7 separate regions of the Homo sapiens genome follow, and all the other regions are reported to be linked to region 1. Evidence: microRNA targets listed by miRTarBase, many of them from high-throughput screens and not tested one by one. Region 1 holds a microRNA gene; each other region holds the end of a gene's coding sequence. Distances are from middle to middle.

Region 1 (4,340 bases):
TGTTGGTCATTTGTATGTCTTCTTTGGAGATATGTCTGGTCATTTTTCAATTAGGTTATTTGCCTTGTCATTGAGTAGTAAGAGTTCTTTGTTCTAGATACAAATCTAAAATCAGATATGTGATCTACATATGTTTTCACCAATCTGTGGGTTGTCTATTCACTTTTTTGATGTCATTTGAAACACAAGTTTTTAATTTTGATAAATTCCAATTTATGTGTTTGTCTTTTACCGCTTGCAATTTTGATGGTGTTATCAATGGTGTAAAAATCATTGCCTAACCGAAGGTCACTAAAATTAACTCCTGCATTTTCTTCTCATAAAATTTTAGCTCTTACATTTAGGTCTTTGATCCATTTTGAGTTAATTTGTTGCGTGTTGTGAGGAAAGTGTGCAAATTGATTCTTTTGAGTGTCAATATCCCTTGTCGGGCCCAGTGCAGTGACTCATGCCTGTAATCCCAGCACTTTGGGAGGCCAACATGGGAGGATTGTTTGAGCTCAGGAGTTCAAGACCAGCCTGGGCAACATAGTGAGACCTCATCTCTACAAAAAATACACAAAAACAAAACAAAATTAAATGGGCATGGTGGTGCATGCCTGTAGTCTTAGCTACTTGGGAGGCTATGGCGGGAGGATTGCTTGAGTCCCGGAGATCAAGGCTGCAGTGAGCTATGATACACCACTGCACTCCAGCCTGCGCTACAGAGTGAGACCCTGTCTCCAAAAAAAGAAACAAACAAACAAACAAACAGACAAACAAAAAACCACTTGTCCTAGCACCTTTGTTGCAAAGATTAATTAGTCCCCCATTGAATTGTCTTGTTACCTTTGTTAAAAATTGAGGGTCCATTTATAACAAAATAATGTTTTCCTAAAGTTAAAAGTTGCTACTGTTACCTCTCAATTTTAACTTTTTTTTTCTTTTTTAATTAATGTTTTTTACCCATGGCAAGCTGTAATAGCTTTTTTGAGGGGAGGTAGGTGCTTTATAAAGAACAGTAGGTGCTGCTTATCAACAGATGAAAGGAGGGTTCTTTTTCAGGCAACCATCTCATTTGTGAGTGAATGCACTTTCTCTTTAAAGTGCTGGGATTGTTAGTGCCATTTTTATTGTAAATATCAGAATTGTTATTTTTTGTCTTCTACCTAAGAATTCTGTCTCTTAGGCTTTCTCTTCCCAGATTTCCCAAAGTTGGGAAAAGCTGGGTTGAGAGGGCAAAAGGAAAAAAAAAGAATTCTGTCTCTGACATAATTAGATAGGGAACCAGTTGGGAAGCTGTAAGAATAATGCAGGTGCAAGGTGGTGGTGGTTTGAGCCGGGTGATAGCTGTGGATGTAGAAGGAATCTGAATATATTGTGTCATAGGGTTGACCTGATTTGCTAATGGAGTAGTTAAGGATGTGGGAAAGTGGAATCAAGCATGGCTCCAAGGTCTGGGCCTGAAAAACCGGGAGAATGAGTTCACATTAACTAAGACGGGAAAGACAATGGTAGGGGCCTGTTTAGGGAAGAGCTAGGAAGAGATTAGCATCTCATTTCTAATGATGTAATACATAGAATCTTGCAGGAGCCTTTAGTGAAGTGTAGTTTAAGTCATCTAATACTAAAATTTATATAAAGTGTCCAGAATGCCTTTTACTGTAAATAACTTATTAAAATAATAAACTGCATAATATTAAGTGTGATATTTGTCAGAGATGTTAAGTGATTATAGGACTCCCAAACTAAGAATGCTTTATAATTATCATCAGTATTCCCCTTTACCTTGGGGCATGTAGAACTGGCTTTAAGATGTGTTTTGTGGGGAGTTTTCTGTGGGTTTTTTTTTTTTTTTTTTTTTTTTAGATGGAGCCTCACCCTGTTGCCCAGGCTGGAGTGCAGTAGCACGATCTTGGCTCACTGCAACCTCCGCTTCCCAGGTTCAAGCGATTCTCCTGCCTTAGCCTCCCGAGTAGCTGGGATTGCAGGCATGCAACACCATGCTCAGCTAATTTTTTTATTTTCAGTAGTTATGGAGTTTCACCATGTTGGCCAAGCTGGTCTCGAACTCCTGACCTCAAGTGATCCACCCGCCTCAGCCTCCCAAAGTGCTGGGATTACAGGCATGAGCCACCATGCCTGGCATGTATTTATATGTTTAAATTAAAAGATGTTTCAACGGCATGGTAATTGGCATAGAGCTGAGACAGATAAATAAAAGGAACAGAAAAAAAATCCAGAAATATTCCTATGCATATCTAGATAGTTGATGTATTTAAAAAGCACAAAGGCAATGCAGTGGAGAATGTATAGTCTTTTCAACAATGGTACTGGAGCAACTGAATATCCATATGCAAAAAGAAAAATTGAACCTTAATTCATACCTTTTACCACATACAAAAAATAACTCAAAATGAATCAAAGACCATTGAAAACAACATTATAAAACTCTTGGAAGAAAACACTGGAGAAATTTTTTTCTACCTTGAATTAAGCAAAGATTTCCTATATGATATTAAAAGCGTAAACCATAAAAGAGCAAATAGATAAACTGAACTGCTCTTCAAAAGTGCCAATAAGCCAGGTACAGTGGTACACGCCTGTAAACCCAGCTACTCAGGAGACTGAGGTGGGAGGATCCTTTGAGCTCAGCACTTCGAGGCCAGCCTGGGCAGTGTAGTGAGACCCAGTCTCTTACAAAAATGCAAATAAGAGAATATAAAGATAAACCACAGACTAGGAGAAAATATTTGCAAAGCATATATCTGATAAAGGATTAAAAACTACACCATTTTAGGCCAGGCGCGGTGGCTCACGCCTGTAATCCCAGCACTTTGGGAGGCCCAGGTGGGCGGATCACAAGGTCAGGAGATCGAGACCAACCTGGCTAACATGGTGAAACTCCGTCTCTACTAAAAATACAAAAGAAATTAGCTGAGCATGGTGGTGGGCACCTGTAAGTCCCAGCTACTCTGGAGGCTGAGGCAGGAGAATGGCGAGAACCAGGGAGGTGGAGCTTGCCGTGAGCCAAGATCGCACCACTGCATTCCAGCCTGGACGGCAGAGCGAGACCCTGTCTCAGGAAAAAAAAAAAAAAAAAAAAAACCTACACCATTTTGGGCCAGGCACATTGGCTCATGCCTGTAATCCCAGCACTTTGGGAACCGAGGCAGACGGATCATGAGGTCAGGAGATCGAGACCATCCTAGCCAACATGGTGAAATCCCGTCTCTACCAAAAATACAAAAAGTAGCTGAGTGTGGTGGTGCATGCCTGGAATCCCAGCTACTTGGGAGGCTGAGGCAGGAGAATCGCTTGAACCTGGGAGTTGAGGTTTCAGTGAGCCAAGGTCATGCCACTGTACTCCAGCCTGGCGACAGAGACTCCGTCTCAAAAAAAAAAAAAAAAAACTACACCATTTTAAAAGTAGCCAAAAGGTACTTGAAAATTGCCAAGAAAGTAGATTTTAAGTGATCTACCACAAAAAAAGTAATAAGAATATGAGGTAATGCCTGTGTCAGTTGTCTCAACTTGGCCATTCCACAATGTATACACATTTTAAAAACACATGTTGGCCAGGCACAGTGGCTCACGCCTGTAATCCCACCACTTTGGGAGGCCGAGATGAGCAGATCACCTGAGGTTGGGAGTTCGAGACCAGCCTGACCAACATGGAGAAACCCTGTTTCTACTAAAAATACAAAAAAAAAAAAAACAAAAAAAACAAATTAGCCGGGCATGGTGGTGCATGCCTGTAATCCCAGCTACTTGGGAGGCTGACGCAGGAGAATCACTTGAATCCAGGAGGTAGAGGTTGCGGTGAGCTGAGATTGCGCCATTGCACTCCAGCCTGGGCAACAAGAGCAAAACTCCATCTCAAAAAAAAAAAAAAAAAAATGCCAGGCACTGTGGCTCATGCCTGTAATCCTAGCACTTTGGGAGGCCAAGGCAGGTGGATCACGAGGTCAGGAGTTCGAGACCAGCCTGACCAATATGGTGAAACCCCGTCTCTACTAAAAATACAAAAGTTAGCCGGGCATGGTGGTGGTCACCTGTAATCCCAGCTGCTCAGGAGGCTGAGGCAGGAGAATGAACTTGAACCCGGGAGGCAGAGGTTGCAGTGAGCTGAGATCATGCCACTGCACTCCAGCCTGGGCGACAGAGTGAGACTCCATCTCAAAACAAAAAAAAACATGTTGTACAACCTAAATATATACCATTTTTCTTTGTCAGTTTACAAAATTATTTAATCAACTTTAAACATAAAAATGGCCAAAAGATTTGTACAGTTACTTCACCATAGGAGGTGTACAAATGGCAAACTCATGAAAAATGCTTCACACCATTAGTCACTAGGG
Region 2 (4,340 bases), not on the chromosome of region 1:
CAGGACTCCACTGCGTTCCAGGCGGGGGTCTGGGCGTTTCTCCCGGGTCCGCGGCCTTAGTGCTTGCCTAGAACTGCGGTGTGGAAGGCGCTGCCCCGCGGGCTTCCCGGGGCGCCAGGGCCCCGGAAGCGGCTCTCTGGTGTCTCGGTGCCTGCTGGCCGGCTTCCTCCCCGCCTCCCGACTGCTCTCGCCAGATTTCACTGCTTCGCGCCTGTTCTCAGCTTTCCCCCCAGATTTCTGGGGGAGGGGTTGGGCTTTCCGAACCACTAGGAGGGCGGCCCAGGAAGGGCCCGAGGGCGGAGGGGGAGCAGACAGGGGGCCCGAGGGGACGCACGTGTACCTGGAGGGCTTTCCTTCTGTCCCAGACCCTGTCAGCCGCGGCTCTCGCCTGAGAACTGGGGACGGGGTGGCGCAGTGGCGGGGGGGTGGGGACCCGCTAGACCTGGCAGGGGGTCGAGGCTTGCCCGGGTGCTGCGGCTGCAGGAGAGCCAGCCGCCTGGCGGGAGGGCTGCCCGCGGTGGGCTAGGAGAAGGGCCGCTGAGCGCTCAGCGGGCTGGGGTCGCCCGGGTCTCACGTGTCTCTCTCCCCCCTCTCCTCGCACTTGCCCCCTCCCCTCCCTCCAGACGCCCCCCGCACCCGCAAGAAGCGCTGCCCTTATTCGAAATTCCAGATCCGGGAACTGGAGCGAGAGTTTTTCTTCAACGTGTATATCAACAAAGAGAAGCGGCTGCAGCTGTCCCGGATGCTGAACCTGACGGACCGACAAGTGAAAATTTGGTTTCAGAACAGAAGGATGAAAGAAAAGAAACTGAGCAGAGACCGGCTGCAGTATTTCTCGGGAAATCCTCTGCTGTAACCTGCAGACCGGGCCCTTTTGGGGGCGGGGGGAGGGGAAAATTATTTTATTTTATTTTTATTTTTTATTTTCTAACTCGTCTTCTTTCCGCCGGTGGAAAACTGGACTGTGGCCAGGGCTGGCCCCCACCGCTGTGGCCGGCACTCCATTCCGGAACCTCCTGGACCCTCTATCTGACTCTCGCTGTGGGACAGGGACCGGGCCTGGAAAGGGGGTGAAGGGAAGTGTCTGATGCACGGCGAGTGAACACCGTTGGCGCCGAGGCCAAGACTTTGATTTAAAAGAAAACACACCTCGGCGACAATGTCTTGCTGCTCGGATTAGGTGGGGGAGGGGCGACAGTAGTGAGCGCCTGAGCCGAACAATCCTCGAACTAAAAGCCTTCCCTTGCCCATGTGAAAAGATCCGCTAAGACAGCATGTCTGCCAGCGGAAACTTCTCGAGCTCCCCCCTCTACCCCGCCCCACCTTGCAGCTAAATGTGATCCTGCCTTGCTGTGAAATTTCTGTACCTTCAACCTGGTGTTAGGTGTGCAAAGTCCGTGTCCTACCTCCGTCTTCGCCAAGGCCCCGCCCGAGCCTAGTTGTTCTCCCCCTGAATGTGTAGAACCTTCCTTTGAAATTTCTTAATCGGTGCATTGAGGTTTCCACATCTTTTTCCAAGCAGTGCCCCACTTCATGGATTTATAGCTATAGTCTATGCAGTCGTTACCTCTTTTTTTTTTTTTTTTAAGAAAATTGAAGATTGGGGTGGTGGAGGCAGTAGGGAGATGGGATTGGGCACCTCCCCCGTGCTGGGGCCTGGATTTTTGTAAATAAATTTCCCAAGCGTTTCTTTCCACCTGGAGGGAAAGGGGGGGACGCCCCCAGTGAGATTCAAATCACGCATCTCTACTCCTCTGCGTGAGTGCGTGTGTACATGTGCACTCCCCACCCTGCTCCCTTCCCAGAGGGATTGCTGTGAAATTTTTTTGGTGGCAAATAAAGATAAATTTCATTCTGTTCAATATTATGATTTTATTTGACCCTTTTATTAACCCCTCTCCTCTTAAAATCCTCCATGCTCCCATGGCAGCGGCGGAGGAGGAGGAGGCAGGCAGGCAGAGCCCAGCGGGTGAGGACAGGCAGGCAGAGGTGAGATAGGCCGGTGCTAGCCGGCCTGGAGCTCCTCTCCGCTGGCAGGGCCAAGAGTATGGCCGTAGTCTCCTCACATTCTCAAGCTGAGGACATTCCATAGCTACTCTGAAGCTCTCCTTTCTCACGTGCAGCTCGAGCTGTGTCCAAACGCCCAGCAACGGCTTTCTGTTTAAGTACACGTTTGTTGTGGAGTTAATTGTAACCATCATCGAATTTAAATTTATAGGAATTTTTTTGGCTCCACCGCCCTTCTGCCAGATGTCTCCGTCTGTCGCAGTTAAATGTGTAGTGTGGAGGTTAGGGCTTTTTTTTTTTTTTCTCTAGGAGAAATCTGTATTGGAATTTTTATACACTGTTTTTAAGGAAGGAGGGGACAGAAGGAGAAACCAGCCCCCTCCCTCTCCTCTCCACAGCTCCTGGGGGTGGGAAGGTGGGGCCTGGCTGCTTTCCCTCTGGCACAAATGGCCAGGCTCTTCCAGACACAACAAGACGCCTATACTGGGGCCACCCTGATGTTTATACATTGGGTGTCCCACAGTAGAAAGCCCCAGAGGTTTGTTTTGTAGGGGTTGGCACTGGGGATGGAGATGACCTGCGGGGACAGTCACCATACCCATCTATATTTGCTGCATGTTTCTTCTGTATAAAGATAATCATGGCCCTTGCAGTGCTTTCAGTGAGGGCACTTCGTTGGTCTCTGTTTCAAATTCGTTATTTGGGGGCAGAGGTTCAGGACAACTCATCTCATCTTTCCCTCCTCTTTCTGTCTTTGTATAATTCAAAGAAAATATTTTTGTCAATACAATTCTGTTGGATGAAAGGAAAAAGCATCATGACTATCAAATCTAGGTTCTGTCATTTTTGATGGTAGGAATCCCTGCAGCTTAGGTATCTAAATTTCTAATTTGTAAACGTGGGTCGGGTCGTGAGACAAGATTTGCAAACTAGGGTGTATATGCAGCCCACAATTCCCTCATGTGCCCACACACAAACGTTTTATTTAACTCGGTGTGCCTATGGGTGCACATAAGAAGGAATATTATTTATATGCTTTTGTCTGTTGCATGGAGTAAACCTGACCACATACACATCTAGAGCTTGTGTCTCTGTGGTGTGTAACCATTGGCAGTGTTTGTTGAGTGTGGGCAGGAATGCAACTGAGGGGCCTCTGTACATTTTTGTGTGTGTATGTGTGTGTGACACTTCTCTAGGTATGATGTTTATCCACTAGCCACATTAGGAAATATTAGCCTGCTGGTGATGTTTCCTGTGAAATTAGGATAGAGGAAACTCTATAAGGTGAACCTATTTATAAAGCAAAATATTAGCCTCCAAATGCCTGATTTTGGAGAAAAATATTTAAAACCCGCAGGTAACACTTTCTCTGCAATGTGGAGCCCAGAAATGTCCTCAGCTCCAAAAGAGAGTTCTGGTGGATGAGAGGAGAAGGTCATCATGAAAGAAAAACAAAGGCTTCTGTGACCCAAGCCAGGAATCTGCCAGTCCTTGGTGACCCTCTAAAAAGGAGGAAAAAGGGTTTTTTGGCCCCCAAACAAACCCACCTTCCGTCTCCCAAGGTGTCCAACCCCCCTTGCAGGTCAGGGGCACTCTGGGCTCAACCTCTTGGGGTAATCCCCTCTAGCCGCAGCACTGCCCGGGAACAAAAGATCCTCGTCTAGACGCTGCCATAAAGCACCCCCTCACGTTTCTAAACCCAGTTTCATTTCGACCTTAACGACCCAGTCTGGCCTGTATTAGAAACCACTTCCGCCCTAAATAGTAAACAAACCTGTAGTGGAGGGTCTTGGCTCTCCCAACACACTCAGACCCCCACCTCCTCAGCCCGTTGCCCCACATTTTTCCTCTTTTCTCCAGCCTTTCTCAGCTCCCAGCACCCCAGCCCCTTTCCTCCCCGCCGCGCCCACCCCACCCCCCCGCCCCAGTAAATAAACCTGAGGCCGAGTTCAAAGTTTCCCGGAGCTAAGGAGGAATGCTGGTTGTAAAAATCCAAGTTTATAGTGCACGTGGGAGTTTACAAGGGTATTAAGTGGTGTGGGCTGAGAGAGCACTCTGGGCCCCTCCCCCTTCCACCATGGGCTTTGGGGTGCAGGAGGAATCAAGGGCACTCGAAATGAGAAATGGGTTTAGGAGTAGCCTTGAGTTTGGGGTTTCTTTGTCACTTAGACTCTTAGGTGGCTGAGGAATGGCGATGCAAGGGCCCCTTGTAAGAAGACTCGAAACCCCTGCCAAGCACCTCTGAGAGAAAACTCCCTGGCTCTAGTTGTCCCAGATGGAAAGATTGGGGAGCCCTGTTCTGGGGGAGCAAAAGGTGCAAACCAGGTGTCTGA
Region 3 (4,340 bases), not on the chromosome of region 1:
ACCCCGAGCTGAGCGAGGTGATCCGGCCCACCCCAACGGGGATCCCCGAGTTCGACTTGTCGAGGATCATCCCCTCTGAGAAGCCAAGCAGCACCCTCCAGTACTTCCCCAAGAGCGAGAACCAGCCCCCCAAGGCTCAGCCCCCTAATCTGCATCTCATGAACCTGCAGAACATGATGGCGGAGCAGACTCCCTCTCGGCCTCCCAACCTCCCAGGCCAGCAGGGCGTCCAGCGGGGGCTCAACATGTCCATGTGCCACCCTGGACAGATGTCCTTGCTGGGCAGGACAGGCGTGCCCCCACAGCAGGGGATGGTGCCCCATGGCCTGCACCAGGGGGTCATGTCCCCTCCACAAGGCCTCATGACCCAGCAGAATTTCATGCTGATGAAGCAGCGGGGCGTGGGGGGCGAGGTCTACAGCCAGCCGCCCCACATGCTCTCCCCGCAGGGCTCCCTCATGGGCCCCCCGCCCCAGCAGAACCTCATGGTGTCCCACCCCCTTCGGCAGCGCAGTGTGTCCCTGGACAGCCAGATGGGCTACCTCCCGGCACCAGGCGGCATGGCCAACCTGCCCTTCTAGAAGTCGCTGCCAGGGCTGGAGCCGGGGCAATGTTGCAAATACGATAACCTTAACAAAGTTCTTCCCCTCAATGTTGGGATGGCCTGGGTCGCGGGGTGGGGTGGAGGGGGTGGGAGGGGGCTTGTGTAGGGAGTGGCATTTGTGGAAACCAGATGTGCTGGCAGCTTAGGGGGAAGTGGCAGTGTGGGGTGGGGGATTTTGCATTGGGGTTGGTTCCATTTCGGCCACCAGGACTGCCCCTCCCCCACTCCTCCCAATTCCTATGGAGCCTCTCTATTTTACCTCTTTCCGTGCATCCCTGCACCCGCCACACCCCCTTCAGCTATGCTTTTGGAGTCCTGGATGGGAATCTGGGGGGAGAGAGGAAGGACAGGTCAGGTCTCCCCCAGCCCCTTCTGCTCCTGTCTCCTCGTGTCCGCATTGCTGGAGCTCCACCTCCCTCTTGGTTTCTCCGCACCCGCCCATTTTCCTTCTGTCTTTACCTGCTTCGTATCCTTTCCCTGCTGATGTGGCTGACCCCTCTCCCACCCCTCCCTGCAGGCGGCTGGCCAGGTGGGCAGGTGCCAGCCGGAGCTGTAAATAGAGCGCTGCGCTTTTGTGCTGGTTTGTGCGTGTGCTGTATTTCTGTGTTTTGATAGAAGTCACACAAAAAAAAAAGGATAAAAGAAACCCTTCCCCCCTTCTTCAAGTTATTGCTCCCTCCATTCCCCTGGACCCAGGGACATGCAGCCCTACATGGCCACCCACTGTTTGCAGTGTCTCTGGGTCCCTAAGGGATACCATTCCTGTCTCGTCCCCAAATGGTAAGATGACGTAAATGACCCACTCCTAAACTGAGGTCAGACCACCTAGGCTTCCACCTGGTGAGCCCTAGCAGGGCTGAGACCCCCAGGGCGGCAGCCTGTCTGCTGCTGAGTGATTCAGGGAGAACATGTGTGCACGTGCATGTGTGTTTGCCCACACCGGTGACACGGGGCCCTGGCTTTCCACTTTGGATGCCCGGGCATCCGCTGCTGCTACATCTTAGCCAGAACTTGAAGTCTTTTGTCCCAGTTTGGGATGAAGGAAAGGAGGAAGAGGCGGTGGCTGTGTGGCCCCCTTGAGTGGAGCCATGGAAGGGGTGGCATGGTGCCACTGGGGCCTGTGGCTGTAGTAGCCCTGGGCCAGGTAACCTCCAGGGCCCTGACTTTTCCAGAGGCTGCTGCCACCTACTTCTTATCAAAGAAGGGGGAGAACAGTTCATCTGAGTCAGTGCACCTCCCCTCCAGTCTCCACTCCCTGAGGATGGAATCGGGGAAACAGCATCCTGCCGCCTCCTCTCTGCCTGCCCACTCACCGGCAAGGTTGTCCCTCTGCCCAGGGCTCAGGGCCATGTACCAGATCTGTCTGTGCCCACCCAGGCACAGCCACTGCCTCCCCCTTGGCTCCCTGCTCCTACCCAGGAGAGCTCCCTATCCGCCTTTGGTCAGAGCTGAAGCCATATACGACTGGGTGTTTGTCCCCCTACTTTGGCCCCAGGAGTAAAAAAACTTCTCCTTTTCTCACTTCCTTTCCTGCCTCGGGAGGTGGCAGGGCAGTTCCCTGGCTGAGGCCTTTTGCGCCCCACCTCCAGGACCAAGGGCCATTCTAGACAGGGTGTCTTCTACCAGGACCCGTCCCTAGCCTTCCTGGCCTGGAGGGCCTGGTCTTGCACTGGCAGCTGTAATACAAAGGGAACTCGCCCCACTTCTCCCAGCCTGGTGCTGTCCTCTCGGCCCACCATCGGCCAGGTCCAGCGCTTCCTCTGGGGCTGACAACAGGCCCCTGACTCACCCCGGTCACCTCCCAGGGTCCATGGCCAGGGCCTCTGTGTTTGGGGGGCCACTTGCCCTTCATCCTGCCAGGCGCTTTGCCCGCCCTGCCTCAGCCTGGGCCCTGTGCCCTTGAGCCCTCCACCCCTGGCCCAAGACCCCCCCAAACTGTCTGACTCTGTGTTTCCTGCCCTGAGGAGAGAGGGGTCAGATTGCAGCGGGCCGAGTGCCCTCTCCGTCCCCTCTCCTCCCACCCACGCCACAGGCCAGCCTACTCTTCCCTCCATCCATGGCCACACCCCCAGCCATTTTGTACCATTATATAAATATATATATAAATATAAATATATAAATACAATATGTGAAGACATCTTCTTGGTTTTTATTTTGAAACAATTTTTAGGCTTGTTCCGGGGGTCTCTGTGCTGCCTGTACTGTATTGACCTGTTTTATAGGTGCCTTTTTATTAAAAAGAAAATTCAAAATCCAGCCTCTTGCCTCTTTGCATCTGCTTCAGACTCCCCCATCGATTACCCAGCTTGCGAGGAGATACTCAGAGAAAAAAGGGACGTCTTAGGGCTTCCTCGTTGTCCTGCCGTGAAGACACTCTCACGTGAGCCACAGCTGTTATTTCCCCAGTGGGGCCTCCCAAGGAGCTTGGCTGCTTGGCTTGAGTGGGACAAGGGCAGGGGTCCCTGACTCCCCACCTGATCAAAGGCTGGGGAGGTGGTAGGGAGCACCCAGAACTGCCGGACGGGCCTCCCACACCCCAGGTGAGCAAACAAGCACGGAGCAGCTTCCTGCGGTTCCATCTGAGTGACATCCTCACGGGGGCAGGGCACGGCTTCCTGGGGCCTGGGGACTTCCCTGCCTCAGTGTGTTTCTTACACTTCCCTGCCTAAGGTGATGCCACGGAGGGGATGGTTGAGATGACTCCCACGGGCCCCTTCCAGTCCACCTTTCTCCGTTCCGACTCTGAGTTTCCTCGGGTCTATAGCTTATGGGAAGGGAGTGAGGAGGGGACAAGCCAGCCTCCTTCCCCATCAATGCCCACAACCTCCCATCCCCTGGACCCAGCCACCCTAGGAGTTCTCCACCCCACCCCATCTCGCCTGGCGGAGGGGACCGCCGGGTTTGATTGATCCATCTCCCTCCTTGGGGTTCGGGAAGAAAGCTCTTTTCTTCCCTCTGTCGGGTTTCTTTCTTGCTTCTCGGCCTTCACGCTTCCTCAGGTCACTGGCTGGCCTCCAAGGGCACCTAGAGTCAGCCCTGCCTGCAGACCACCCAGGATCCGGTGACATGGGGTGGACCCAGCGCTGTTTCGGTCAGAGCCAGGGGCAGCTACCTGAACTCAACCAGTCTGAGCTTCCTGCTTGGTCAAGATGACTGCAGGCTTGGGGGCCTGGCAGAATGTCTGTGTTTTTAGGGACTGAGTTGTCCGAAGGCCACACTCTGCTGCCAGCTGGCCTTTCCTCAGCCTTAACCTCCACTCATCCCCTGGTGCTCAGCTTCTGGCTTTGTTTGACAGGTGGGCAGGAGGAGAGAGGGGAAGCTGTGGAGGTCAGCAGCCCCTAAGCTGATGGAGTGTGTTCTGGGAGGGGCAGGCGCTCTCCGTTGGCAAGGGCAGAAGTAGAAGTTGTTTCTTGAGCATTGGATGATTAGGATGGGAGGTGCGTGAGGTTCTCTCAGCCCAGGGGGGTGCAGATGGGTAAGGACAGCCTTCACTGTGCCTTTGAGCTGCTTTCCGCTCCCTGGGCTCCAGCCTAGCCCCAGGGCCGGCAGAAGAGCTGGCAGGGATGTTCTAGAAATGGGGGTTGGTTCCTCTAGCTACCCCAAATGAGGATACTCCTAGGACACTCTTAGCCACGGTGAGCCCTTAGGATCCCAGCTCCTGTTGGAAGGAGCATCCAGCATCACTGCCTGCCCCAAGGAAAAGCAGCAATAAAAGGGGACACTGGGACCTAGAACG
Region 4 (4,000 bases), not on the chromosome of region 1:
TATTCTTGGAGCGCTTAGCTTTCCCTGACCTTTGGCTTCACCCTCTGATACCAACTGATTATATTAAAAACTTACCAATGTGGCGATTTAAATGTCTTGGAGTCCAGTCTGAAGAGGAAATGTCGGAGGGGTCTCAAGATACTGAAAATGACTCGGAAAGTGAGAACACAGACACTTTGAGTAGTGAGAAGGAAGTATTTGAAGATAAGCAAAGCGTACTTCACAATTCTCCAGGAACAGCAAGTCACTGTGATGCTGAGGCTTGTTCATGTGCCAATAAATATTGTCAGACCAGCCCATGTGAAAGGAAGGGGAGGTCATATGGATCATATAACACTAATGAAGATATGGAACCTGATTGGTTAACTTGGCCTGCTGATATGCTGCACTGTACTGAATGTGTTGTTTGCCTAGAGAATTTTGAAAATGGATGTTTGCTAATGGGGTTGCCTTGTGGTCATGTGTTTCATCAGAATTGCATTGTGATGTGGTTGGCTGGGGGCCGACATTGTTGCCCTGTTTGCCGGTGGCCTTCTTATAAAAAAAAGCAGCCATATGCACAACACCAGCCCTTGTCAAATGATGTCCCATCTTAACCATGTGCAATTTGTCCTTTATAAGCTTTGAGTATCTTACAGCTTGCCTTTTTAATGTTAGTCACAATGTTTTTGTGGTTTGAAGTTTAGTTTAATGTTAGTGCAGTGACGGGAAATACACATTATGCTAATGTTGATGACAGAATTTATTTGGTTGCCTTGTGTGTTAATTGAATGCATACCTAATTGTAAAATTTTTTTATTTACAACATTGGAAATTCAGAAGTTAATGTTTTTTTGTAAGCACAAAAGAAGTATTATAGAAATTTATCCTAGCAAGACTTTACAAGATAGGATCAAATTCTAATGGAATTGAGCCGGTTTCTTATCCTAAATGTTTCCTCCCTTTTTACAATCTCTGTCCAGCACCTCTTGGTTAAATAATGTATGCTGTGAGACATGAAATTAAAACAGACCTATGAAATAAATTATTTTAAAACCAGAAGATTACAGATTTTCCAATGTTAAATTTTTTTGATAAGGTGGCTGAATGATATAGGTGTTTTGCTGGTTTGTTAATTTCACAGATAGATCAAACATGATTCTTGACTCACGTTGGGGAGGAAGACAAAATGTTGCTGGCACTTGCTAGATGTGACAGTTCACCTTTTAGCTTGGTTAGCTGTGATGGGAAAGAGTTTCATGGTGGGCTTTTGAAAAAGTACTAAATAATTTATCAGTACTTAGCACATTCATCTAAATAAAATCAACTATAGCATATTAGCCACACATAAATTATGTTTTTTCTGACTTTTGAAATTTTTTAAAGCTACAGAAAGCTGTAAACATAGTACAGTGAACATCCATTTCTTTTTATCTAATTCACCAAGTGTTCACATTTTGTTATATGTTTTATCTCCTATCTCTTATGTGTATATTTCTTTTTTTTTTTTTTTTTTTTTGAGATGGAGTCTCACTGGGTCGCCCAGGCTGTAGTGCAGTGGTGCAATCTCGGCTCACTGCAAGCTCCGCCTCCTGGGTTCACAGGAGTAGCAGGGTCTACAGGTGCCCACCACCACGCCCGGCTAATTTTTTGTATTTTCAGTAGAGACGGGGTTTCACCGTGTTAGCCAGGACGGTCCCGATCTCCCGACCTCGTGATCCGCCCGCCTCGGCCTCCTAAAGTGCTGGGATTACAAGCATGAGCCACCGCACCCGGCCGCTGATCCTTTTGAAAATAAATTTCAGTCATCATGATGACTGACTGCTAAATATATCACCACATATCTAAGAACAAGGACATTCTTTTATGTAACCACTATACCATTATGACACCCAAGAAATTTAACATTGACTCAATAATAGCTAATGTATATAAAATCGATACTCCCCAATTGCTCCTGAAATATCCTTTATATCTAAATGTTTTTGTTTTATTTTTATTGTGAACTCAGACATAGTCGATACATTAAGTTTAGTCTCCTCCTTTTCATCCTTTCCTCTAGAGTAATTCCCCCTGCCGCCACCCCTTTTTTTTCTTTTTCTTTTCTTTTCTTTTTTTTTAAAGACAGTTTCCCTCTTGTTGCCCCGGCTGGAGTGCAATGGCGCGATCTCAGCTCACCGCAGCCTCCACCTCCCGGGTCCAAGCGATTCTCCTGCCTCAGCTTCCCGAGTAGCTGGGATAACAGGCACCCGCCACCACGCCCAGCTAATGTTTGTACTTTTAGTAGAGACGGGGTTTCTCCATGTTGGCCAGGCTGGTCTCAAACTCCCGACCTCAGGTAATCTGCCCGCCCCGGCTCCCAAAGTGCTGGGATTACAGGCGTGAGCCACGGCGCTAGGCCCCTGCCCCCTTTTTAAAAAAGTAGACTCTTCTTTGATTTCTCTCTGGTGTTCTGTTTTATTTTTCTTTTATCATTTTTTTCTTTTTTTGAGATGGAGCCTCTCTCTGTCGCCCAGGCTGGAGTGCAGTGGCATGGTCTCAGCTCACTGCAACCTCCGCCTCCCTGGTTCAGGCGATTCCCCTGCCTCAGCCTCCCGAGTAGCTGGGATTACGGACATGCACCACCATGCCTGGCTAATTTTTGTATTTTTAGTAGAGATGCGGTTTCACTATGTAGGCCAGGCTTGTCTCGAACTCCCAGCCTCAGGTGATCTGCCCACCTCGGCCTCCCAAAGTGATGGGATTACAGGCATGTGTCACCACACCTGGCCAATTTGTTTTACTTATTTTTATTTTATTTTTTTATTTTATTTTATTTATTTTATTTTATTTTATTATTTTATTTTATTTTAATTTTATTGAGACAAGGTCTTGCTCTGTTGCCCATGCTAGAGTGCAGTGGCATCATCATAGCTCACTGCAGCCTCAAACTCCTGGGCTCAAGCGATCCTCCTGCCTCAGCCTCCCAAGTAGCTGGAACTACAGGCTCAAGCCACAGTGCTAAGTTTTGTTTTGTTTTGTTTTTTGTTTGTTTTGTTGTTGTTGTTTTTGAGAGTTGGAGTCTTGCTTTGTTGCCTAGGCTGGTCTTGAACTCCTAGGCTCAAGCAATCCTCCTGAGTAGCTGGGGTTACAGGCATAAGCCATAATGCCTTGCTAGTTGCCTTTTTTTGGTACTAACATTTTTGGAGACTACAGGATGGTTGACTTATAAAATGCTCCACATTCTAGATTTGTCTGTTTCTTTCATGATTAGATTTAAAGGATATTGTCTGGAAGGTATGTACTTTCCATTTGTATGGCATCAGAAGGCACATGTCAGTTTGTCCTATTATTGGTGACATTTGGTTAAAGTGATATTTGCCTTTTCTTTCCATTCTAAGATACTTTTTCACTTTAAGAAGGAACCTGTTGAGACTATGCAAATATCCTATTCCTCAACAATCTAACCCAATGGCTTTAACATCTGTTGATTCTTTGCATCAATCAGTTATTAAAGAAGAGTTGCAACATGGGAATTTCATTTATTTATTTCAAGACAGGGTCTTGGTCACACAGGCTGCAGTTGCAGTGGCATGATCACAGCTCACTGCAGCCTCAACTTCCTGGGTAGCTGGGACCACAGGTGTGTGGCACCACATCCAGCTAATTTTTGTATTTTTTTGTTAGAGACAGGGTTTCGCCATGTTGCCAGGCTGGTCTCAAACTCCTGGGCTCAAGTGATCCACCCGCCTTAGCTTCTTAAATTGCTGGGATTACAGGCGTGAGCCACCGTGCCTGGCTAAGATGGGGGTTTTCTAATACCATCATTCATTCTACATTTATTGACTTTTTTGTGAACAAGAACTTTCCATTTTTCACACTTTTGATTCACAGATTTTTTAAAATACCCTATGTGTTAGAATTTATGATTCTTCTTGATTTTCAAATCATCCCAGATTAGGCTAGAGGGAGCCTCTCTAAGCCGGCTCTTATGTCCTATTGACAGTCCCTTTAATCTCGAAGCACTTCCTTGCCTTTTGAC
Region 5 (4,340 bases), 210 Mb from region 1:
CAGCGGTGTGATCTCGGCTCACTGCAACCTCCGCCTCCCGGGTTCAAGTGATTCTCCTGCCTCAGCCTCCCAAGTAGCTGGGACTACAGGCGCCCACCACCATGCCCAGCTAATTTTTTGTAGTTTTAGTTATACACATAATTATATAACGTGGTGAAAATTTGGGCGACACACAAGGTTATTAATTTTGAGGTGGAGTGGATGGAATAGAGAGGGGCGATATAGTCGGGGTTAGAGATGAGGTTTCATCATGTTAGCCAGGATGGTCTCAATCTCCTGACCTTGTGATCCGCCTGCCTCAGCCTCCCAAAGTGCTGGGATTACAGGCATGAGTCACCATGCCCGGCCTCCTTTGCTGTTTCTTCTTCAGCTGCCTAAACCCTAAGTGTGACGTCTGTCCTGCTGGGGCTTGGACCAGGAACCTCAGAATGGACTGATCAGCAGCCAGTGTAGCGCGGAGACTACTACTTACTCTTGGGAGGCTGAGACTGGTTAAGGTGTGGGGGTGCTTCCCCAGGCCTGGGGGCAGAGGCCACATTTTATTGTGAACATCACACTATGTTTGGTATTTGTCACTGGTGATAGCTCTAGAAGCTGTGGATCACCAAGAGACCAGAAGAAAACAAAAGAACAAGTTTGGGAAGTCCACAAGGCATTTTATTCCACAGGAAGAAAAATGATGACTCTGATATGAGAACCAGACTCAAGAGTCTTCACACACTGGTGACTGTAATAGTGTTTACATAATAGAGAACCAGATATTTTTAGAATTTTATCAAGCAGCTACTATGGTATTTTGAGGCCCAGATCATACTTACAAACAAAGTGGCCCTGGAGCCTTCAGAACATTGCGATGAGCACCCACCAAGCAGCAAGACACTCTTGGGATTTGGGGAAGGGGCCGCTTGTCTGTTTTCCACTGTGTAGTGACCAGGCCCAGGGGCTGGGGAAGCACTGGCCTGGCTCACCCTTCAGTGAGCACAGAGAAGCAGCGACAGCCAGGGAGTGACACGGGTCGGCCAACTGTGCTGGGTCAAGGGACTGGGTAGCTTTGGATATCTCCTTACCCAATTTACTCTTATTCCATTTATTTTACTTTCCTCAGAGACGAACTGTGTGTTTGAAGCAGAAAGAAAAGCAGTAGAAATGATCTTAACAAAGTCTTAGGCATTGCTGGCTGAATATCAGTTTACAAAGAGACGGGGCATTTAAGGAGCCAGGGGCAGGGCCTGTTTCCTCCAAAGCTTTGGATGTTTTCCTGGTGAGAACCAGGAGGGGATGTCAAATGCCCCTGAAACCTTCTGGCCTTGTCTGGCCCAGGGCTGCAGGGCAGGGGAGAGCTGAGAAGTGGAGCAGCTCGCAGTTGGCCCTCCCATCTCCCACCCAGCCCCGCCCTAGGTGGTCTTTGGATTCCATTTTAACATCTGCCTCTCCTAAGGTGCAAATGTCAAAGTGCTTGGTTGTGCAATCACAGGAGATGGGCAGCTATTTAAAGAGCTGATTAAAATTAGAAAGGAGCCCAAGGGGGGCATCTGAACACTTCTCTGGATTCCTCCTGAAGCACCAGCCCACAGGGCAGCCCGCAGCTAACTTCCTCAGTCAGGTCTGAGAACACCCAGCACTGCTGCGGCCCAAAGCAGATTTTCTTAGTAACACTAAACTCCTTAATCTCATCAAGAGATTTCAAGTGACTTTGTTCCAGAAGGTGATAGAAGGCTCACTGACGCATACAATCAACCCTTCCGAGAGTCTCATCTTTTAAGAGATCATGATCTCAGGCAGTAGGTTACTGATGACAAAAACCACAAGCCAAACCTGTGGGGGTGCAAGGAGGGAGGCTGAGGAGGAAGCTGCAGAGGAGCTGCCATCTTGTGCAGTGCTGTATCCTGCTGCCATCTTGTGCAGTGCGTGAGTGCTGAGACAATCATCACCACCCCCCAGCAAGACACACACAAACTAAAACTCACCCAGTGCCGCAAAAGCCAAGTTTCCATTCTGCAATCCACTAACTTGGAGTTCAGCAAAGGCAACCAAGCCTCGGAGTTCAAGAAAGCTGATCCTTGAACACTATGTAGCTACTTGTGCTAAAGCTCCCTTCCTTCCTCTCTGCATGCACGCGCGCGCGCGCACACACACACACACACACACACACACACAGACACAGACACAGAGGGGAAGTGGGAGAGGAAAGGGAGGGGAAGAAGATTAGCTTCATTTGTGTCTTGGAAGGATTTGGGTCATGAGTTATAAACACCAAAACCTTCCACGCATCCACTGATCCACTGAGTCATCCCAGACTCAGCTACATGTGACAAGGTTGTAGAAATTGATTAGCTTTATTAAAATAAAAATTTAAAAATCACAAGGTGACTCATTCATTCTAAAGTGAGGCCCCTTTTCCCTTCTCCCTATCTGCTTAATCCTTACAGAAAAGCGAAACACCAAAAACAAGACCCAGGGCGCTCATACCAGGCCTTGCTCCCAGCAGGAATTTAAAACCAAGGATAAGAGATGCCTTTGTCAAATCTTGGTTCCATGAAAAACTTACCAACGCAGCTTTTTAATACTCCTATTTCATCCCCCTTTCTGGAACTCTCCCTGCTCCCTTCTCATCCTGGGGTTTCCATCCTGTGTCCCCTCGGGCTGTGGAGCTACGATGCCTGCCTGTGGCTTTATTAAAAAGAAAACAGTCCCGGGGCTTTGTTCTTGGTTGTTGCTGCCCAGGCAGGAGAGCACTTTTATGTGGATTTCTGATTTGTTGCAACAGTTCAATGGGACTTTTTTTTTCCTTCTCAATCAACAGAGTTTACCAATGTTTCCAACCTCTCTAATAATAATAACCTGAGAAAACTTACAATGCTGACTTGCACCCATGTGGTAATGGAGCACAGGTTTCCCCCTAAGTTTGGTAAGACTAGTTAGGAAAAAGCCAAATGGATAACTTACATCATAATTTGTAAGAATCTAAGCACTCTTTGTAAAATGGGGGTGAGAAATTAAAAGTGGGCTCCCAAGCCCCTCTCCTAGATCCTTCTGAAGGGCCAGCGCCAGTCCTGGGTGCCACAGCTCACAGCCCAACTGGACAGCCACGATGTCAAAGGCGTCCCTTTCAGGACCACAGCCCTCACCTCAACCCACTTTACTGGGAATACTTTAGTCTCCAAAACTAAGACGTAACATTCTTTAACTTTTAAGAATGCCTTTCTATAGACAGTATCCTGAATTAGACATCTAGAATTAGTGCAATAGAAGATCCAATATAACTTTATATTACTTTACAGTTAACAAACCTTTACACATAGCACAGACCCTGTTCAGAAACGTTCCTATATATTTACAAACACACTGTTGTACATATATACATGTTAACAAAATACAGGGCAATCTAAAAATTAGATTCATCTCAGTACATGTTTTTAAACGTTATTTAACCAATACCTTTAAAAATTATTTCCCATAATCTAAAATAACTCCCTGCCTCACAAATTAATACGATTTCCATTTGTACTTTTCCTCATGAGGATTTACTTTCCCTCATTCCTTGACAACTTCCCCAAACCCGACTCCGGTTCTGCCTCCATCGTCAGCTGAGAGCTGGGCCTCTTTCCTCCTGGTGGGTCTGCGCTGTGTCGGGAGCGCCCATCTCAGCAGCGGGGCTTCAGGAGTCCAGCTCCAGCTGCTCTCGGTTTTCGCTGAGTCTTAACATAAGCTGCTGTTCATAGTAGAGGCTCTTTGCGTAGTTTATTTCTTGTGACAACTTGACAGCAAGGACCTCAGATTTCACATGGACCTAAGGAGGAGAACAGGATGGGTCACCTGTCCCCAGGATGGGGAAATCCAGGAATCAGATCCACCCAGGTGGCGGCTCCCAGCCCAGCTGCATCTCAGGATGGGATGTACACGTCAAAGAAACAGTGATGGCCAGGGCTGCTCCTGCTTCACTCGCACTCACAAGTCTGGGGTGGGTCCCTGCAATTTTTTTTTTTTTTTTGAGACGGAGTCTCTGTCGCCTAGGCGCAATCTTGGTTCACTGCAACCTCCGCCTCCCGGGTTCAAGCGATTCTCCTGCCTCAGCCTCCCGAGTAGCTGGGACTACAGGCATGTGCACAGCTAACGATTTTTTTTTTTTTTTTTTTTTTTAAGTAGAGATGGGGTTTCACCGTGTTAGCCAGGATGGTCTCGAACTCCTGACCTCGTGATCCGCCCGCCTCGGCCTCCCAAAGTGCTGGGATTACAGGCATGAGCCACTGCGCCCAGCCGGTCTTTTTAAACATTCCCCAGGACTGTACAGCCAACCCATACTCACCTGACATTTGGGAACTCCCCCCCACGGCCATAAC
Region 6 (4,340 bases), not on the chromosome of region 1:
GCCAGGCATGATGGCTCACGGCTGTAATCCCAGCACTTTGGGAAATGGAAACCGAGGTGGGTCCAGCCTGGGCAACATAGTGAGACCTTGTCTTTACAAAAAAAAAAAGGGTCAAGCGCAGTGGCTCACGACTGTAATCCCAGCACTTTGGGAGGCTGAGGTGGGTGGATAACGAGATTGGGAGTTCGAGAACAGCCTGGCTAAGGTGGTGAAACGTCGTCTGTACTAAAAATACAAAAATTAGCCAGGCACAGTGGCAGGCACCTGTTATCCCGGCTACTCAGGAGGCCGAGGCAGGAGAATTGCTTGAACCTGGGAGGCGGAGGTTGCAGTGAGCCAAGATCACGCCACTGCACTCTAGCCTGGGTGACAGAGAACACTCTGTCTCAGAAAAAAAATACGTATTTTGTGTACCACATACAATCACATTATCTGTAAAATTCATTTGACAATTTGATTTTATATGTCTCTTTTTTTGAGACTCCCTCTGTCGCCCAGGCTAGAGTGCAGTGTCATGATCACGGCTCACGACAGCCTTGACCTCCTGGGCTCAAGAGATCCGCCCACCTCAGCCGTCGAGCAGGGGATGCTACAGGCATGCACCAACATGCCCAGCTAATTTTTGTTTTTGTTTTAGAGATGAGGTTTCACCATGTTGCCCAGGCTGGTCTCGAACTTCTGGGCTCAAGCGATCTTCCCAAAGTGCTGGGATTACAGGCATGAGCCACTGTACCTGGCTGTTACATTTTTAAAAGATTATTACTTATTTTTTTAGAGACAGAGTTTCACCCTGTCGCCCGGGCTGGAGTGTAATGGCGCAATCGGGCTCCCTGCAACCTCCGCCTCCCAGGTTCAAGAGATTCTTGTACCTCAGCCTCCCAAGTAGCTGGGATTACAGACATGTGCCAGAACGCCCGGCTAATTTTTTGTATCTTTGGTAGAGATGGGGGTTTCACCACGCTGGTCAGGCTGATCTCGAACTCATGACCTCGTGATCCGCCCGCCTCAGCCTCCCAAAGTGCTGGGATTACAGGTGTGAGCCACCACGCCCGGCCTACATTTTTGTATTTGTTAATGAGACAGGGTCTTGCCATGTTGCCCAGGCTCGTCTTAACTCCCAGGCTCAGGCAATCTTCCTGCCTTAGCCTTCCAAAGTGCTGGGATTACAGGCCACTGTGCCCAGCCCTATATATATAAAAATATTTATATATATATATATATTTTGAGATGGAGTCTTGCTCTGTCGCCCAGGCTGGAGTGCAGTGGCGTGATCTCAGCTCACCGCAAGCTCCGCCTCCTGGGTTCACACCATTCTCTTGCCTCAGCCTCCCGAGTAGCTGGGATTACAGGCGTGAGCCACCGTGCCCAGCCCCAGCCCTATTTATATTTTGTAAGAAAAGATAAAACAGGGGCCGGGTGCGGTGGCTCATGCCTGTAATCACAGCACTTTGGGAGGCCGAGGCGGGCAGATCATGAGGTCAGGAGATCGAGACCATCCTGGCTAACACAGTGAAACCCCGTCTCTACTAAAAATACAAAAAATTAGCTGGGCGTGGTGGCAGGCGCCTGTAGTCCCAGCTACTCGGGAGGCTGAGGCAGGAGAATGGTGTGAACCCGGGTGGCGGAGCTTGCGGTGAGCCGAGATCCCGCCACTGCCAGCCTGGGTGACAGAGCGAGACTCCGTCTCAAAAAAAACAAAAACAAAACATAGAACAGTAGAACTTGTATTATAGTCTCATCCATGACACCTGGAGCCCCTGTGAGAAATGAGGGGAATCACTCCGGGAAATAAACAGATCTGTGGCTGCCAGGGCCCGAGGGGAGGGGAAGAAATGGTGAATGATGCTAACTGGACATGAGGTTTCCATTTGGGATAATAAAAAAGTTCGGAGCTGGACTGTGAGGACTGCCCAGCACTGTGAATGTACTCAGTACTCAGTACCACTGAAATGCACACTTCACAATGGTGACAAAAGTAACTCTTGGCCAGGTGCAGTGGCTCACACATGTAATCCCAGCACTTTGGGAGCCTAAGGGGTTCGAAACCAGCCTGGCCAACATGGTGAAACCCCACCTCTACTAAAATTACAAAAATTAGTCAGACGTGGTGGTGCACGTCTGTAATCCCAGCTACTTGGGAGGCAGAGGTTGCAGTGAGTTGAGAACACACCACTGTACTCCAGCCTGCTGGGTGACAGAGTGAGACTCTGTCTCAAAAAACAAACAAACAAAAACCTTTTATGTTACGTGTATTTTACCACAAGGGGGGAAAAAAAGAACTCATGAATCCCTCCGAACTACATGGACCTGTGGAAAACACATCCATGGGCTGCATTTGGTGTACACAGGGATGGAATTTGGTTTTGTTTTTTGAGATGGAGTCTCGCTCCGTCACCCAGGCTGGAGCGCAGTGGCGCAGTCTTGGCTCACTGCAACCTCCACCTCCCAGGTTCGAGCAATGCTCGTCTCAGCCTCCCAAGTAGCTGGGACTAAAGGCGCCTGCCACCATGCCTGGCTAATTTTTGTATTTTTAGTAGAGATGGGGTCTCATTTTGCTGGTCAGGCTGGTCTTGAACTCCTGAGCTCAGATGATCCACCCACCTCAGCCTCCCAAAGTGCTAAGATTACAGGCGGGAGCCACTGCGCCTGGCCTGGTTTTTATGTTTTAATTTAAAAATATTGTTTAGATAGAGATAGGGTCTTGCTGTGTTGCCCAGGCTGGTCTCAAACTCCTAGCCTCAAGTGATCCTCCTGCCTCGGCCTCCCAAAGTGCTGGGATAAGAAGTATGAGCCACCACGCCCAGCGAGAAGCATAATTTGAACTACGTGACAGCTTCAAAGGGAGGCTAGAAATCACTGTCATGAAGTCCACACTGTGGGAGTGAAAGGATGGGCAGGCCCAGCCCACAGTGACCCCACAAGCACTCAGCCACCACCCCCACCCCGGCCCGCAACCTTCAAGAAGGAAGCACTCAGATACCAACAGGACATATTTCAAATAGTTTAATTTTAAAAATATTCTATTCAGTGCTAAAATATGTCTTCACTCACTGTTGCCCATTTCCATTTTCTTAAACTTTTTTGAAACAAAAAATAAAATCACAAAGTTCAATTCAACATGCAGATTTCAAAGAAAAGGGAGCTTTCTAGAAACTGAGCTGAAGGGGTACTGTGGGGGATGGGTACTGTTGTCAGAACCTCAAATTCTTGCTGGGGCAGTTTGTGACAAGAGGCAGGGATGCTGGAATGACAGGTAGAGGTGAGAACAAAGCTGCGTGTGTGCAGATGTGTGTGCTGAGGGCAGGGGATGGGGACGGCGGCCACAAAGGGCTGTCAGCAGCTAGGGTGCCCGTGAGAGGTAGGACCACCTCAGGCATGGGCAGAGCTGGCAGGACAGCAAGAAATCTAGACGGACTCTCTGCCCTTGTGTGGAGAAAAGCCCTTCCCTTCCCTCCAATGTCTCTACCCAGTCCTCCAACAGCAGCCTACAGGGCCCCCAGTCCTAGGGGAAAGTCCGGGAGTCTACAGTCTCCGTTCAAGTTCAAGTAACCTGAGGCACGCTCTCTTCTAGAAGGTGCCTTCCACATCTCTCTCTTCTCGCAGAAGCTGCCAGCAGCTCCGTCCAGAGATTCTGGAGCAGAGACTGCTGCCTGGAGGTCACAGATGAATCTTGGGGTGGCCGATGCTCCAGCCAACTTGGGGTGCAAAAAAGACATGAGCGCTCCTCTTCTCGGGAGCAAGTAGACACAGGTGCCAGGGTCAGGAAGATGATGCTACAGCCCCAAGTCCTACGCCAGCCTTCCAGCCCGGAAGGCTCATGTGTGCAGGCTCTTGACCCCAGTGCTTGCCCTTACCCCAGCAACGCGGCGCGGCCAGAACCAGAATGCAATAAATAGAGGCAGGGCCAGGAGGCGGAGGGCCGGGATGGTGCTAGCTTTCTGACGCCGTCTGCGGCACTGTGGGTTGGTCCACACAGAAGCGCTTCAGGGGCGGGGCACCTGAGTCTTCCTCTTCCTCAACGACCTAGGAGCAGGCAGAGCATGGAATGCCAGGGCCACCCCTCCCAACCAGAACCTTCCCACCCACCCGAATTATAATGGGATGTCCACTCTGCTCCTTCCAGCAGATGATCAAACATCCTCCCCTGCCTACAACCCTGGGACTCATTTCCGGCGCTGCAGATCCAACCCCACATCCACAGTCTTTCCTGGTTTTTTGACTTAGAAACTGGGAAGCCTGGCCGGGCACAGTGGCTCACACCTATAATCCCAGCACATTGGGAGGCTGAGATGGGTGGATCACTTGGGCTCAGGAGTTCGAGACTAGCCTGGCCAACATAG
Region 7 (4,340 bases), not on the chromosome of region 1:
TTATAGAAAACATAGAAAAAATAGCAGCTCCATTTAGGAGTAGCTATTGGTAAGAACACTTTTTATGTAACTTTCCCATGTGAGTTGGAGTTGTTGATGGCAAATATTGACATTTGTGTCTAAGGGAAACAGTTGGGAAACTGTTGTTTACATACTTCATGCTATAAATTTAAAGTGTTTGTTTAGGGGTGGAATTGCTATTTGGCATAAATAGGAATTCCTAAATTATCACTAAATGAAGTAACCATCTACTAAAATTACCTATTTTATCTAATGTGCATTTTCACTTGCTGTTAACTTGGATCGTCAGTACAGAACATAATGTAACCTTAGAATGCATAGGCGTTTTCCCCATTAGAGCATCCCGCTTATAAAATATTTCTTGTTCGTATTATTTTAAGAAGTTCTTTATCAATTTTGTGTTTCTTCAGGTGACTCAACTACAGCCTGCCTGGATATGGATGATGCCAATAAAAAATTAGTATTTTCCCTTTGGAAAACTTGTGAACATGTGAATACACATGTGAACAGTCTTACATTTGAAAAACCAATGTTCTACAACTTGGAAAGTTTTCATTTTTTATATTTTGCTGAAATATGTCACAGTGGCATTGCAGTTGTCTGTTAGCTTTGGGTTGCAGTGCTAGATATTGTTTTAAATTATTTTCATTTTAAACAAGATGCCTTCTAAGCTATTGAGCTTATTAAAAATAATTTTACATGTTTACTTAGTTGGAGCAAAAATAAGTCTATTTTAACAAATAGCTTTGTTTTTGCATGCTAATGTCAGAAAGGCATACGATGCACATTATGCTCTGTTTTAAAGGTTTTACCACCCTTGTAAAAACTATAATCTTAAATGGTTTTATTTGCTGTTACACAAACAACACTACATAAAACATTTTTTCCTAAATGGTACAAATTTATAAACTATCATTTTTCACTTACGGTATTTGTAAATACTACACTACAAAAATCAGCTTTCTGAGAAAGAAATAATCATTTATTTATGATATTGAAAATTTCTACAGTAAACACTCAAAACCAAGCAAAAAACATTTGTAAGATACACGGTATCTATTTGGAGCAACGGTTTTTGTAACTAATGTGTTTCATTTTTTAAATAAAGACAACTAAAAATAATCTCTTTCTGCAATGATTTTTATAGCAGAAATTGACTTATCTGGAGTGTTCTAGCAATTTTTAGGTCATTTAGCAGAACAGTAAGCTTCCAGAGGAAACCTACACTTCTATCCTTTGGGCCTGGCCTGTTCTGTTTCTGGGTTCTTTCCGCAGTCAAGTACACCGAGTAACAGGTTAAAGAATGGCAGTTTCACCTGGCCTTTACAGGGACACTTACTTCTTTCAGAAGTCATTAAGTCGGCTTTTATTATTCCTAAACAAAAGAGCTTTATTTTCTCATGAGTAGGTTTTAGAGTTTTAATTGTTGACAATTTTTCAGTTACTAATAGAACCCCAGTCATTTCATTTTATTTTTCCAAGGACAAGAGTCTATTAAGGGAACCATTAACTATTCAGTACAGTGAATTACTTTCAGATTACTAAGGAAAAGGAAAGTGAGCAGTTATAAGATGCCAAACACCTATCTATCTGCCTGAAATATGCACCTTTCAGGTTGGACCTAATAACATTCACCTCCCCTTGCTGAAAAGCCTTCCAACACCCACGAGGCCATCTCAGTTTCCATGCTACCTTTTCTGTAACTCTACTAATAACCAAACCACATCATGTGTTCACCAAACTGAGTTATCCCAGTAACTACCATTATCATCTTTGTCTCCACTGGCCTGGCACACAAGGTATTCAGTAAATACGTTGAATGAAGAATATGAAGATGCGTGGTTTTTCTTTTTTCACTTATTACTAACCCAGCTTGGGCCTTTGCATGGGAAGAGAAAAAGGCTTGCTGGGACTTCAGATAATTTTATCATACAGGTAAAGCAGTGGTTCTCAACATCTGGAGACATTTTTGGTTGTCATTCCAAGATGGTGCTGTTGCCATCTAGTGTGTGGAGGCCAGGGATGCTGCTACAATCAACCCTATCAACAGAGAATGATCCAGCCCAAAACATCAACTGAAGTCGAGAAGCTCCATCATTTTGGCAATATGAATAACAATCTAAATCACCACCCTAGTTCCTTTAACACATCATCTACCTTAGTCTGTCTCCTTCATACTCTGAAGAGTCAGTGTTTATCTGTGGTAAACAACAGCATCTGCCGTGAGGCTCATCACTGTCAGGGGAAAGGGCCTTATATGTAAACACTTTATCATTTCAACTACACAAAAATTATTTACTAAAGCACCTACTCTACCTGACAGTTCACTTACTCCCTTATAACTGCTGCTACAAGCAAAATCATTAAACACTATTTTTTCTGCACAAAGATGATAGGTCTAGTAATGGTACTGTGTCAAGAATAAAACTCGAGGTCTACTCACAGGGAAGCCAGACGACAGGACCTGCTGTGATCCTTCCAGATCAGAAGACACCCACGCTTTCCGCTGCTGAGCATTCTGACTGGCATTGACTCCAGTGCTACCAAAGGAAGCACGGCAGCTGTGACCCTTGCAATCAGGACACACAAACCAACACCGGGCAGTAGTTTCCAGAATTTGGCTTTATTTTGCAGTACAGAAATCATTTGGAGCCATTTTGAGACAGAAGTAGAGGCTCTGTCAAGTCAATACTGCATTGCAGCTTGGTCCACTGAAGAAGCCACGCCTGAGATACAAAAGATGCACTACACTTGACCCGCTTTATGTTCGCTTCCTCTCCCCTTCTCTCTCATCAACTTTATTAGGTTAAAACACCACATACAGGCTTTCTCCAAATGACTCCCTATGTCTGGGGTTTGGTTAGAATTTTATGCCCACATAAACCAAACTTGTGGCTATGCTATTTGGGCCCTGCCATAACATTTGACATAATACAAAATATAAAGTCATAGGGAAAACTTCCGGATGCTGTCCCAAACCGTGGAATATTCAATTTAGAATCTCCTGAACCTCAAGAGGACAGATGACACACAACCTGTATGGATCCAGCTCTTGAGCAGCAGCAGCACATAGCTACACTGATTAAAAGATTAAAAAAACTGTCTCAAGTTGTCTGTGTCGGTATCCCAATGTTTGTTTAACTTCACTAGAAAAAAAAAAAGCCAGTTTGGTTAAATTGAACAGAATGTGGTAACTGCCAATGCTGAATAGCCACTCCATGAAAACAAGTTAATAATTAGAAAGGTGAAGGGGAGTATTTACTGGCACAGCGCTCTTCATTCTCTCCATTTTCATTACAAAAGCAGGCCTTACAATATTGATTTCATTATATGCATTATTTGCCAAATTTTAAATGTGTCCTAATTACATAATAACATGTACTGCTGTTAGTCTTCCCCATAGATGTCATTCTTCTTGCGCTTCATTTCCTCAAAGTCAAACTCTGATCCTGTCATCCTCTTATAGATGTTTTTAATGTCATCACACGTTGTCTCAAAATGAGTGGTGGCATCATATGTGCGGGAAATAAAGATCTGAAAACAAAAATTACGAAGACTTAAGACCATGGAGGGATGTCTTCCAGTGAAACCTGCCCATATCCTTTCACACTTCCATACTCACCTGGCTTTCTGTTCCCAAGTCTTTTGGTACCAGGAGGTCACTGATGCTAACAAATCTGGAGGGAGAGAGAATTCAGTCAGGTGAGCTGGTCCCACACCTGACCATGGCTCTGCCTGAGGTCAACTGAGAGGTACAGATGAATCCCACAGAGCAGCCAGCAGCTACCTGCCTTGCCCTCACATTCGTCCCACCATGGAGCCACAATCAAAGGCCTCAGTTTGCATCTCGGCAGATATAAAAGAACACAACTCACTTCTGTTCAATTGGTTCCAAGAGCTCCAAAGCTGGTCTGATTTCCTTCTCAGGCTCCTTGGTTTCCACAGTTGTACTAACTATAGCAATGTACTTCCCTTGTGCTGCTACATTGTGCGCAAAGGAGATCATGCAGACGTAGATATCTAGAAACAAATGATACCAGCTCACTGCCTCAAGTGTCTCCATCTGGGACCCAACATACTCAGGTATCACCCATATGTCATGAGGTGTGAGTTAAAATTACTCTCAATAGGCAAGATCTTCTACACTTAAGTTCTAAATGGTGACAGAGTTGGATGTAAAGTACACAGATATTTAACAATAGGAATTTCTTTTAACCTACTAGAGATTAAGAATTGAAGTGGTAGCGAACTGCTGAAGTTTGGAATGAGATCTCTTAACAGCTCTGTCATACCTAACTAAAAAACCTGCCAAACCATAT

The links. Region 1 holds the annotated microRNA hsa-miR-320b (AAAAGCUGGGUUGAGAGGGCAA, at 1,200-1,221, shown strand). A microRNA usually pairs through its seed, bases 2 to 8, with sites in the 3' UTR of a target mRNA and lowers its output. Matches are read on the target gene's strand: a 7mer-m8 pairs with bases 2 to 8, a 7mer-A1 pairs with bases 2 to 7 and ends in A, and an 8mer does both.
Region 2: miRTarBase lists HOXC11 as a target of hsa-miR-320b. The part of its 3' UTR that is shown has no 7-base or 8-base seed match.
Region 3: the mRNA of BCL9L is a reported target of hsa-miR-320b. The part of its 3' UTR that is shown has no 7-base or 8-base seed match.
Region 4: the mRNA of RNF103 is a reported target of hsa-miR-320b. The part of its 3' UTR that is shown has no 7-base or 8-base seed match.
Region 5: miRTarBase lists VPS13D as a target of hsa-miR-320b. Seed matches in the 3' UTR shown: 7mer-A1 at 2,086-2,092 and 7mer-m8 at 2,050-2,056.
Region 6: the mRNA of BCL7B is a reported target of hsa-miR-320b. Seed matches in the 3' UTR shown: 7mer-m8 at 3,268-3,274.
Region 7: the mRNA of TASOR2 is a reported target of hsa-miR-320b. Seed matches in the 3' UTR shown: 7mer-m8 at 978-984.

The regions. Positions count from the first base shown.
Region 1 is chr1:224,253,930-224,258,269 of GRCh38, reverse strand. It overlaps MIR320B2 (microRNA 320b-2), which reads left to right and starts at 1,160; the gene lies at 1,160-1,230. The region is part of intron 18 of NVL (nuclear VCP like); the gene reads left to right. RefSeq lists a silencer at 1,229-1,523 and an enhancer at 2,635-3,560.
Region 2 is chr12:53,974,558-53,978,897 of GRCh38, forward strand. It overlaps HOXC11 (homeobox C11), which reads left to right. Exons shown (of 2, transcript NM_014212.4): 2 at 624-3,086. The coding sequence ends at 856. It overlaps HOTAIR (HOX transcript antisense RNA), which reads right to left and starts at 397. Exons shown (of 7, transcript NR_186241.1): 1 at 341-397. RefSeq lists enhancers at 1-389, 720-869.
Region 3 is chr11:118,894,656-118,898,995 of GRCh38, reverse strand. It overlaps BCL9L (BCL9 like), which reads left to right. Exons shown (of 10, transcript NM_001378213.1): 10 at 1-2,860. The coding sequence ends at 581. CXCR5 (C-X-C motif chemokine receptor 5) reads right to left here. Exons shown (of 2, transcript NM_001716.5): 2 at 1,209-4,340. The coding sequence ends at 4,333. Among named protein-coding and RNA genes, the nearest start is that of CXCR5, 13 kb to the right of the region's middle. RefSeq lists enhancers at 347-854, 2,474-3,232.
Region 4 is chr2:86,600,439-86,604,438 of GRCh38, reverse strand. It overlaps RNF103 (ring finger protein 103), which reads left to right. Exons shown (of 4, transcript NM_005667.4): 4 at 1-1,041. The coding sequence ends at 596. All of the region lies in intron 3 of RNF103-CHMP3 (RNF103-CHMP3 readthrough), which reads left to right. The region is part of intron 5 of CHMP3-AS1 (CHMP3 and RNF103 antisense RNA 1); the gene reads right to left. Among named protein-coding and RNA genes, the nearest start is that of RNF103, 21 kb to the left of the region's middle.
Region 5 is chr1:12,508,343-12,512,682 of GRCh38, reverse strand. VPS13D (vacuolar protein sorting 13 homolog D) reads right to left here. Exons shown (of 70, transcript NM_015378.4): 70 at 636-3,790. The coding sequence ends at 3,659. Among named protein-coding and RNA genes, the nearest start is that of SNORA59A, 3.3 kb to the right of the region's middle. RefSeq lists an enhancer at 3,773-4,274.
Region 6 is chr7:73,533,368-73,537,707 of GRCh38, forward strand. It overlaps BCL7B (BAF chromatin remodeling complex subunit BCL7B), which reads right to left. Exons shown (of 6, transcript NM_001707.4): 6 at 2,989-4,023. The coding sequence ends at 3,931. Among named protein-coding and RNA genes, the nearest start is that of BAZ1B, 13 kb to the left of the region's middle.
Region 7 is chr10:5,762,598-5,766,937 of GRCh38, forward strand. TASOR2 (transcription activation suppressor family member 2) reads left to right here. Exons shown (of 22, transcript NM_001321783.2): 21 at 1-49; 22 at 432-1,143. The coding sequence ends at 435. It overlaps GDI2 (GDP dissociation inhibitor 2), which reads right to left. Exons shown (of 11, transcript NM_001494.4): 9 at 3,897-4,041; 10 at 3,644-3,698; 11 at 2,626-3,555. The coding sequence ends at 3,409. Among named protein-coding and RNA genes, the nearest start is that of GDI2, 49 kb to the right of the region's middle.